Linked DNA regions of Homo sapiens. The protein of the gene in region 2 purifies or fractionates together with the protein of the main gene of each other region. This does not show direct contact. Each region holds a gene or a part of one and is shown on either strand. Other genes may lie near its edges.

The links.
Region 1: the proteins of CASTOR2 (region 2) and TRAPPC9 fractionate together in Homo sapiens (co-fractionation; one large-scale study listed by BioGRID). This does not show direct contact.

Annotation. Positions count from the first base shown.
Region 1 is NC_000008.11:139,730,483-139,734,617, reverse strand, and holds part of TRAPPC9 (trafficking protein particle complex subunit 9), read left to right. Parts: intron 1-2,415; coding exon 2,416-2,639; intron 2,640-3,389; coding exon 3,390-3,557; 3' UTR 3,558-4,135. UniProt on the Homo sapiens protein: Functions as an activator of NF-kappa-B through increased phosphorylation of the IKK complex. May function in neuronal cells differentiation. May play a role in vesicular transport from endoplasmic reticulum to Golgi.
Region 2 is NC_000007.14:75,015,977-75,021,022, forward strand, and holds part of CASTOR2 (cytosolic arginine sensor for mTORC1 subunit 2), read left to right. Parts: intron 1-1,621; coding exon 1,622-1,815; intron 1,816-2,013; coding exon 2,014-2,146; intron 2,147-2,995; coding exon 2,996-3,119; intron 3,120-4,062; coding exon 4,063-4,173; intron 4,174-5,046. UniProt on the Homo sapiens protein: Functions as a negative regulator of the TORC1 signaling pathway through the GATOR complex. As part of homodimers or heterodimers with CASTOR1, directly binds and inhibits the GATOR subcomplex GATOR2 and thereby mTORC1.

The sequences.
Region 1 (4,135 bases), on a different chromosome or scaffold from region 2:
GCCCCTTTCAGCTCCAGCCCTGAGGATGGGGAATGGGCACAGGCCTCCAGCCTTCCTGGAGGGCAGTCTGACCTATCAGCCTCTCTTAGAAATGTTTATTTCTCTTGTGCCACCCATTTCATCTGCCTCACTGTTCCAGGAACATAAACTCAGAATTCAGACAGAGCTCAATATAAAAAGGTGTGCATCAGTCACTTACACTGGAAAACAGTGGACACGAGCCACATTCAGGTGGCTCCCTAATAGCACAGGCCATGTCCTCATCTCCTTATCATAAGCCACGCACTGACTTCTCTCAAATGAGAAAATAAGGACGCACTGGACATGAATGTTTCAGAATTGCGTACCCTTAAACCTCTCTGGCACACGGGCTATGGAGAGCACTGATGTCCCAGGAGTCCTTCTTCTTGTGCCTTGGCCACGAGATCCTCTGCTGCCTGCCAGGCCCCCACAGCCTCCCTGTGAACCCAGGACCCTGGATGGCAGAGGAGACAGGCCTAGAGGCTCTGAGCCAGGACTCGCTGGGAATTGGGTGTGGGGACTTTCAATATCCTGTCCCCTCTGCCCCCATCCTCTTCAGGGGTCGAAAGAGTGGCTTGGGGTCTTAGAAGGTGCTTTCCTCCTCACCTGCGTGTGAGGGCAGTGGAACCCAGGCAGGACAGCAGGAGGCCCAACCACACCTGAAGTTGCCTGCTCTGGCCTGACCGTGTGAGCCAGGCAGGCCAGTCCTTAGAGGACCTTCCTCTCCAGGCTGCAGTGAGGACACCCCACAGGGCCCTCCTTGCAGCCACAGAACAGAGGTCAAGGGCAGAGGGCTGTGGGTCAGGGTGTTTCCAGGATCCTCCGCTGCAGGGTGCTGGCACCAGGCCCGGCCCAGGATGCCCGTGACTGTGTTAAGGGGCAGAAGGGGTGGGAGTGCTCTTGTGGCCCACCTGCTCTCCCTATGCGTGTCACCATCATGTCATCCTTATTCCACCTGCCTGCCTTGATAGCCCACAGCACAGGATCAGCCACGGCAGACCATGGGGCTCAGGCTGGCTCCCAGGGCCACGCAGTTTGTACTTGGATGACATGAAGTCAAATTGCAGGCTGCGGGACCTCCCACTTCCAGGACCTCCACAACAGGGCCACAGCAGGTGGCCTTTGCCCAGCAGGAAGGGCCCCCCACCCCACATCTTAGCCTGCTAGGGCTGCCACAGCGAACGACCACAAACTGGGTACTTGAACAACAGATGTGTGTTCTCAGTTCTGGAGGCAGGAAGGCTGAGACCAAGGTGCTGCAGGACCATGGGAGGTTCTGGGGGCTTATTCTTCCCTCCTTCAGTTCCTAGGGGCTCCAGCCACCCAGGGCTCCTTGGCTCCTGCCCGTATCCTCTAGTCTCAGCCTCTGTCTCTGTCTGTGCTTCCTCCTCTTCTGCCCCATATAAGGACATTGTCACTCACTACAGGGCTCACTCTAATCCAGAATGAGCTCCTATCGGGACCTTTCACTTAATTACATCTTCAAAGACTCCCCTTCCCCAATACGGTCACATTCTCACGTATCTTTTGGGGATCACCATGAAACCTGCCACCCTGATCATCAGCTCGCTTCCCTGAGAGAGGGCACACTCTCTCCGCCCCCACCCCACCCTGACCTCAGCCTCCTTCCTTGCTGCTGCCCAGTTAGGAGGCGTCCTCCTTGTCTGCAAGCTCTTGGGGCATGTAAGCAAGGAAGGGAAGAGGAGATGAATCCATGCTCCTTCGCCCAGGACCAGCTCCCTGCCTGGCAGGGTCCACGGGTCCCAGAACCGTGCCACTTCCCTGAGCACCTGTTCTGTGCTGAGCTGTGTGTCAGGCACCCTGGACAGGCTGACAGAATGAAGAAAACACAGTGCAGCCACTTTATAGGGAGTGCTGGAGCCCACTGTGCATTCCTCCTGGGGAACGAGATCAAGACACCACCTCCTGGGGTGTGTGGTCTTGCAGCCACTGGAGGAGAGGGACCTCGGGCCTGCCTGTGCCCCAAAGCTCACCTGACCCCTGACCTGCGGCACTTTAGGGCCTGTAGGGCCCCTTCCACGCCCTCGCCTCTACGGTGTCAGACTCTCACCTGGACAGGAGTCCCTGACTCACTAGAGAGCTCCTCCCCTTCTAGGTGGGCTGTGGCAGGAGGCCCTCCCAGAGGCCCCTCCATTGGGGTGCAGACCCCTTGAGTCATAGCTCTAGCCACCACACCCGTCTTTGCCAGGTTCCTCTTCCGGAGACCAGGAACTGGTCACACATCTGTGTCCCCAGTGTCCAGCCTGGCAGGGAGTGGGTGGCAGCCTTGAAGAGTGAAGGAGGGAAGAAATGAATGAATCAGCGAGTGGGTGGGGTAGGCCGGCTGGGCCGTGCAGGCCAGCCCAGCCCCCGACAGTCTCGTGTCCCTTACAGATGTGCTGGTGGACGGACAGCCATGTGACCGCGAGGCTGTGGCGGCCTGCCAGGTGGGCGACCCCGTGCGCCTGGAGGTGCGGCTGACCAACCGGAGCCCGCGCAGCGTAGGGCCCTTCGCCCTCACTGTGGTCCCCTTCCAGGACCACCAGAACGGCGTGCACAACTACGACCTGCACGACACCGTCTCCTTCGTGGGCTCCAGCACCTTCTACCTCGACGCGGTGCGTGGTGGTGTGCAAGGCGGTCTGGGAGCCTCTGGCCATGTGGTCATCATCCCCCCTTCCCTGGGTGGTGGGCTTTGGGGTCAGCATATGTCCAGCAGACGATAGCAGCAGGGGTTCTGTGGTCACGTGTGCACACTGAGTCTGAGTCTGCCCCATTCACTGCAGGAACTTAGACAAGCTCACCTGTCTCTCAGTCCTGGACAGTGAGGCCCTCAGGGTTGGTGAAGCAGGAAAATGTGCAGGGAATGGGAGCTGTGCCCAGGACAGGGGGCTGCTCCATGATTGGACCCTGCTGTGGCATCACTGTGATGTCACTGTCACCCATCCCGTGCCTGCCGCTCCTTCCACGGAAAGGCTCCAGCCCTACGCCCTCAGCCCCCACCTCCCACCTCCTACCTCTCAAGCTGCCTCTCAGCACCTCACTGTCAGGCCCCAGCACAGGCTAACATTCCATTCCCCTCTGCCCCAACCTCTCCCTCACTCCCTCCCACACTCCTGACCCTCCCACACTCCTGACCCCCTGAGCCCCCAAACAATTCAGGAATGGGAATATTGGCAGCTCCTTTCCAAGATGAAAACTGGCTCGGAGAGGCGCAGTGACCTGCTGGAGGGGGCACTGGAGCCAGGCCTGGGCGGCCCTCGCTTCCCCCATAACACCTATGTCCAGGCAGATTCCCAGGATTCCTGGTGGCTTTGGGTGGCCCCTGCTGCTGACCAGACTGATGTGTCTTTCTCCTCCCTGCTCAGGTGCAGCCGTCCGGCCAGTCGGCCTGCCTCGGGGCCCTCCTCTTCCTCTACACGGGAGACTTCTTCCTCCACATCCGGTTCCACGAGGACAGCACCAGCAAGGAGCTGCCACCCTCTTGGTTCTGCCTGCCCAGTGTGCACGTGTGTGCCCTGGAGGCGCAGGCCTGAGCCCGCCTACTTCCGTCCCTCTTTCTGCAGGGCCAGAGGTGACCCTGCCTGGCCTCCCACACCCCCTGCAATGAGCAAGGCCTTCACTGCAGCCCCATCTCCTCCTCCTCCCCCAGACCCCTCCCAGCCCTCTCCTCCTGTTCCTCCTGTAGCATCTTTGCTGGGCTACGCAGAAGCCCCGGACATGGCAGCCCCACCCCATGCCACGCCCCTTCCTACACTGTTCCCTGGACCATACACAGGCTGAAGCAGAGGAAATCCCAAAGCGGGTGCCCATCCAGCCCAGGTCCCAGGATCCCTGCACCCATTTCTGTGACCTGGGGCCCCAGCCGTGCTGTGCTGCTCATCCCAGCAGAGGGACCTCCCTCGTCCAGCGACTTCCCTTTGGCCATAGAAAGAAATGGTGAGCATGAGACTGGGCACAGCCTGAGGGCGTGGGCAGCTTCCCACCCTCCCTGGGCCTTGGAATCCCCCAAGGCTGGTTTTCTTCCTGGAGACCCCCATGGGCAACTTGGCAGGAGAGATGGTGCCGTAGGAGGTCGTGGATGGTTGATGCCAAGAGAGGCCCTCCACCCGTG
Region 2 (5,046 bases):
GAATTGCTTGAACCAGGAGGCAGAGGTTGCAGTGAGCCAAGATCATGCCAATGTACTCCAGCCTGGGTGACAGAGTGAGGCTCCATCTCAAAAAAAAAAATCCTGCCTCCTTGTGGGATGCAGTGTCAGAGTTCACCTCCCTGTGCCGTGCCCCCTCCCCACTCAGGGCCTGGCACTAGGTGGGTTTATGCAGGTGCCTGGTGTTGTATGAAGAGCCCCGAATGCAGCCTGGGCTCGAGTCTGCAGCTGTGTGTGGTCACACATAGTGTGTGCCTGTGTCCCACATTCAGGGCTACTCAGGGTCTCTGTCTGCAGGACAGGGTGGAAGGGATGGCTCCAGCGTTTGGATTCTGGGTTTTCATGAGCTAGGTAAGGAGGCTTAGCAGTTGCTGCTGCTGTGGACTCCCCACCCTGCCAAAGCCAATGCCAGCCCCTGGGACTTCCAGGCTCTCAGGAGGGACATGGGTGACAGTCACTGCCCCCCATGATGCAGCCTCTTCAGGGGCCCTCCTGGAGTTGCCTCTTCTTCCAGAGAAGCCCAATGTGCAGGGCTGGCTGAAGGGGGAAGAGAAACCCCAAAGCCCCACCCAGCCTTTTCCTGGCCTCCCCTCCACCCAGAGCCTCCCTGAGAGGTATCCAGGAACCCAGTTTGAAAGCCAGTTACACATGGGACAATGGGTGTGATGGCAGCATCAGACCCACAAAAGGGTTGTAAGAACTAAAGGACATTACCCACTACTGATGCCATCGTTTTACGGCTGAGCAAACTGAGGCTCGGTGCAGATCAACCACTTGCCCACATGGCTCCTACTCTGCTAAGCTGCCGGGGATGTCCTGTGTCATCTGAGGGCCTTCCCTGCCCAGTCCTCCCAGGAAGCAGCCTTTGATTCAAATCCCATCCTGTTGAAGGCTGGGCGCAGTGGCTCACGCCTGTAATCCTAGCGCTTTGGGAGGCCAAGGCAGGAGGATCCCTTGAGATCAGGAGTTCGAGACCAGCCAGACCAACATGGGAAAATGCCATCTCTACTAAAAATACAAAAATTAGCTGGGTGTGATGGTGCATACCTATAATCTCCGCTACTCAAGAATCACTTGAACCCAGGAGGTGGAGGTTGCAATGAGCCGAGATCGCGCCACTGCACTCCAGCCTGGGTGACAGAGCAAGACTCTCTCAAAAAACAATCCCATCCGGCTGGGTGCGGTGGCTCACGCCTGTAATCCCAGCACTTGGGGAGGCTGATGCGGGCGGATCACGAGGTCAAGAGATTGAGACCATCCTGGCCAACATGGTGAAACCCTGTCTCTACTAAAAATACAAAAATTAGCTGGGCGTGGTGGCATGTGCCTGTAATCCCAGCTACTCGGGAGGCTGATGCAGGAGAATCACTTGAACCAGGAAGTCAGAGGTTGCAGTGAGCCGAGATCGCGCTACTCCAGGCACTCCAGCCGGGCGACAGAGCAAGACTGTCTCAAAAAAAAAAAATCCTGTTGGAAAGTGAGGCAAGGCACAGGGTGGAGCTGGCCCCAGAGCATCACTCTCCACCTCTGGCCTGCCTTGCCCTGCCCTTGGGTCATCTGGAACCTCAGCAGTCACAGGACTGCCTTCTGTGTCTCCCTCCAGAGCTGCCCTCCTCGGAGCACCTGAGTGTGGCAGATGCCACCTGGCTGGCCCTGAACGTGGTGTCCGGCGGTGGCAGCTTCTCCAGCTCCCAGCCCATCGGCGTGACCAAGATCGCCAAGTCAGTCATCGCCCCACTGGCTGACCAGAACATATCCGTGTTCATGCTGTCCACGTATCAGACAGACTTCATCCTGGTGAGCTGACCATCACAGACACGCCTTGCACACTCATGCCCGCCTCTGACACACTCACTCCCATCTCCCACCCCTTGCAGCCTTGCCCTTCCACGCTATTCCAGGGTGGGGGCAGAGTCTCAGGGTGAGAGGTCGGTGCCCCAGACCCACATCCCCCAGGGCCACCAGGCACACACGGCCTCAACTTCTTGCCCCTAGGTGCGCGAGCGGGACCTGCCCTTTGTCACCCACACATTGTCATCAGAGTTCACCATCCTGCGGGTCGTCAATGGCGAGACCGTGGCAGCCGAGAACCTCGGCATCACCAATGGCTTCGTGAAGCCCAAGCTGGGTGAGCTGGGGGCGGGGGTTTGTGCAGGGGAAACCTCACGAAGTTACCAGGCCCAGCCGCAGACCAGCCTTACTCTCAGCACGGGCTTCTGCCCACTGAGCATGAATGGAGTGCCAGGCAGAACGGGATGCAAAGGGCCCAGTGTGGTGGCTCATGCTTGTAATCCCAGCACTTTGGGAGGCCGAGGCAGGCAATTCACCTGAGGTCAGGAGTTTGAGACCAGCCTGACCAACATGGAGAAACCCCGTCTCTACTAAAAATACAAAATTAGCTGGGTGTGGTGGTGCATACTTGTAATTCCAGCTACTGAGGAGGCCGAGGCAGGAGAATCACTTGAACCCAGGAGGCGGAGGTTGTGGTGAGCCGAGATTGTGCCATTGCACTCCAGTCTGGGCAACAAGAACAAAACTCCATCTCAAAAAAAAAAAAATGTGATGGAAAGGTCCTAGGCAGGCCTTGCTGCCGTGTCTAGCAAGGGTGGTGGACGTGCATGCAGACAGCAATGGCCAGAGGCCACTCCTGCTGCAGCCCAGGTGTCAGGGTGGATTTCCCTGGGCAGGGACTGTGGTGCTGAAGCCTGGAACACAGGTAGGAACGGAGCCAGGTGGTGCCGGTTGGGAAGGGCATCCCAGGCAGCCAGCACAGCATGTGCAAAGGCCCAGGGGCCTGAGGGTGAGATGGAGAATCAGGACGGTGGTAATTGGTGGTAGAGGCTGGAGAAGCAGCGGTGAATGAGTCTCTTGGGGCCTGCAGCTGAGCCCTCCCCAGCCCTCTTCCCAGGCCCTGCACCCACCAGAGCTGCTGCTTTCAGTCCCAGCCTCAGTGCCTGACATCTTTGTGCTCTTACAGTCCAGAGGCCAGTCATCCACCCACTGTCCAGCCCGAGCAACAGGTTCTGTGTCACCAGCCTGGACCCTGACACGCTGCCTGCTGTTGCCACACTCCTCATGGATGTCATGTTCTACTCCAATGGGTAGGGCTGCCTTGGGCATGAGGGGTTGCAGGGTGGGCCAGGGAGAGGCATGGCTCCGCCTAGGAGTCTTAGTCTGACGGGGGAGGCTTTGCTAGGAGCTCATCTGAGGGAAGAGACACAGACCTTCCCTGGAGCTAGTCTGAGCAGAGAGACATGGACCCACCCTGGAACTAGTCTGAGGTGGGAGACATGGACCTGCCCCGGAGCTAGTCTGAGGTAGGAGACACAGACCCGCCCCAGAGCTAGTCTGATGGGGGACACATGGACCCTCCCCAGAGCTAGTCTGAGTGGGGAGACACAGACCTGTCCTGGAGCTAGTCTGAGGTAGGAGACACAGACCCACCCCGGAACTAGTTTGGGGTGGGAGACATGGACCCGCCCTGGAACTAGGCTGAGGGGGAGACACAGCTCTACCTAAAAGCCCCAGTCTCAGGGGTGAGACATCCTACCCTGGGAACCCCAAAATTTGGTGACGCCCCAAAGACTCATTGGGAGCTGTAACAAACTCCCCACTCCCCACTGAGCTCCGAGGACAGGCCCAGTCTGTTGAGGAGCTGAGAACTCAGATTTTTTTCATTTGGTGAACAACAGACATTGTGTCACTTCCTCAGCAGATTTTGTAAAGTTTAGGCCAACACGAGGTGGGGCGGGGCAGGGTCCAGCATGCTGACAGTCACCACAGCCTGTGCCCTGAGATGCAGGCAGGGGCCGGTGTAACCTGCGTGGGAGGCCGGCCGGGCCTCCAGTACTGCAAAGTGTAGCACCCGCCTTTGTGAATGCGGTGAAATCATCCCCGTGGCATAGCGAGCAGGATGAGAAGGACACTGGCCCAGGGTCACCCAGGTGGCATCAAAGCCTGGGCAGGGCCCAGCTTCCCTGGGCTGGTGTGAATGGGGCAGGGGCCACAGGGGCCCCATCTTTACCAGCTGCCTCTGGTCCCCAGAGTGAAGGACCCCATGGCCACTGGGGATGACTGCGGCCACATCCGCTTCTTCTCCTTCTCCCTCATCGAGGGCTACATCTCCCTGGTGATGGACGTGCAGACGCAGCAGAGGTGAGCCAGGCCCTGGGGTGGACGTTCAACCCAGGGTGGGCCCCAGGGTCTGGGGGGACTATGTGATGGCACATCACCCACTTTGTCTTTTATTTGTTGTTGTTTTTTTTTGATACGGGGTCTCGCTCTGTCGCCCAGGCTGGGGTGCAGTGGTGCGATCTCGGCTCAAGGCAACCTCCACCTCTCAGGTTCAAGCAATTCTCCTGCCTCAGCTGGGACTACAGGCATGTGCCACCATGCCCAGCTAATTTTTGTATTTTTAGTAAAGACAGGGTTTTGCCATGTTGGTGAGGCTGGTCTCAAGCTCCTGACCTCAGGCAATCCGCCCGCCTCAGGCGTGATTTTTTTTTTTTTTTTTTTAGACGGAGTCTCGCTCTGTCGCCCAGGCTGGAGTGCAGTGGCACTATCTCGGCTCACTGCAAGCTCCACCTCCCGGGTTCATGCCATTCTCCTGCCTCAGCCTCCCAAGTAGCTGGGACTACAGGCGCCGCCACCACGCCTGGCTAATTTTTTGTATTTTTAGTAGAGACCAGGTTTCACCATGTTAGCCAAGATGGTCTGGATCTCCTGACCTTGTGATCTGCCCGCCCCGGCCTCCCAAAGTGCTGGGATTACTGGCATGAGCCACCGCAACCAGCCTGATTTTTTTTATTTTTATTTTTGTTGAGACAGGATCTCTCTCTGTCACCCATGCTGGAGTGCAGTGGTGCAGTCTTGGCTCACTGCCACCTCTGCCTCCCAGGTTCAAGTGATCCACATGTCTCAGCCTCCTGAATAGTTGGGACTACAGGTGCCTGCCACCACACCTGGCTAATTTTTGTATTTTTATTTTATTTTTTTTTAATATTTATTTACTTTTTGAGACAGGGTCTC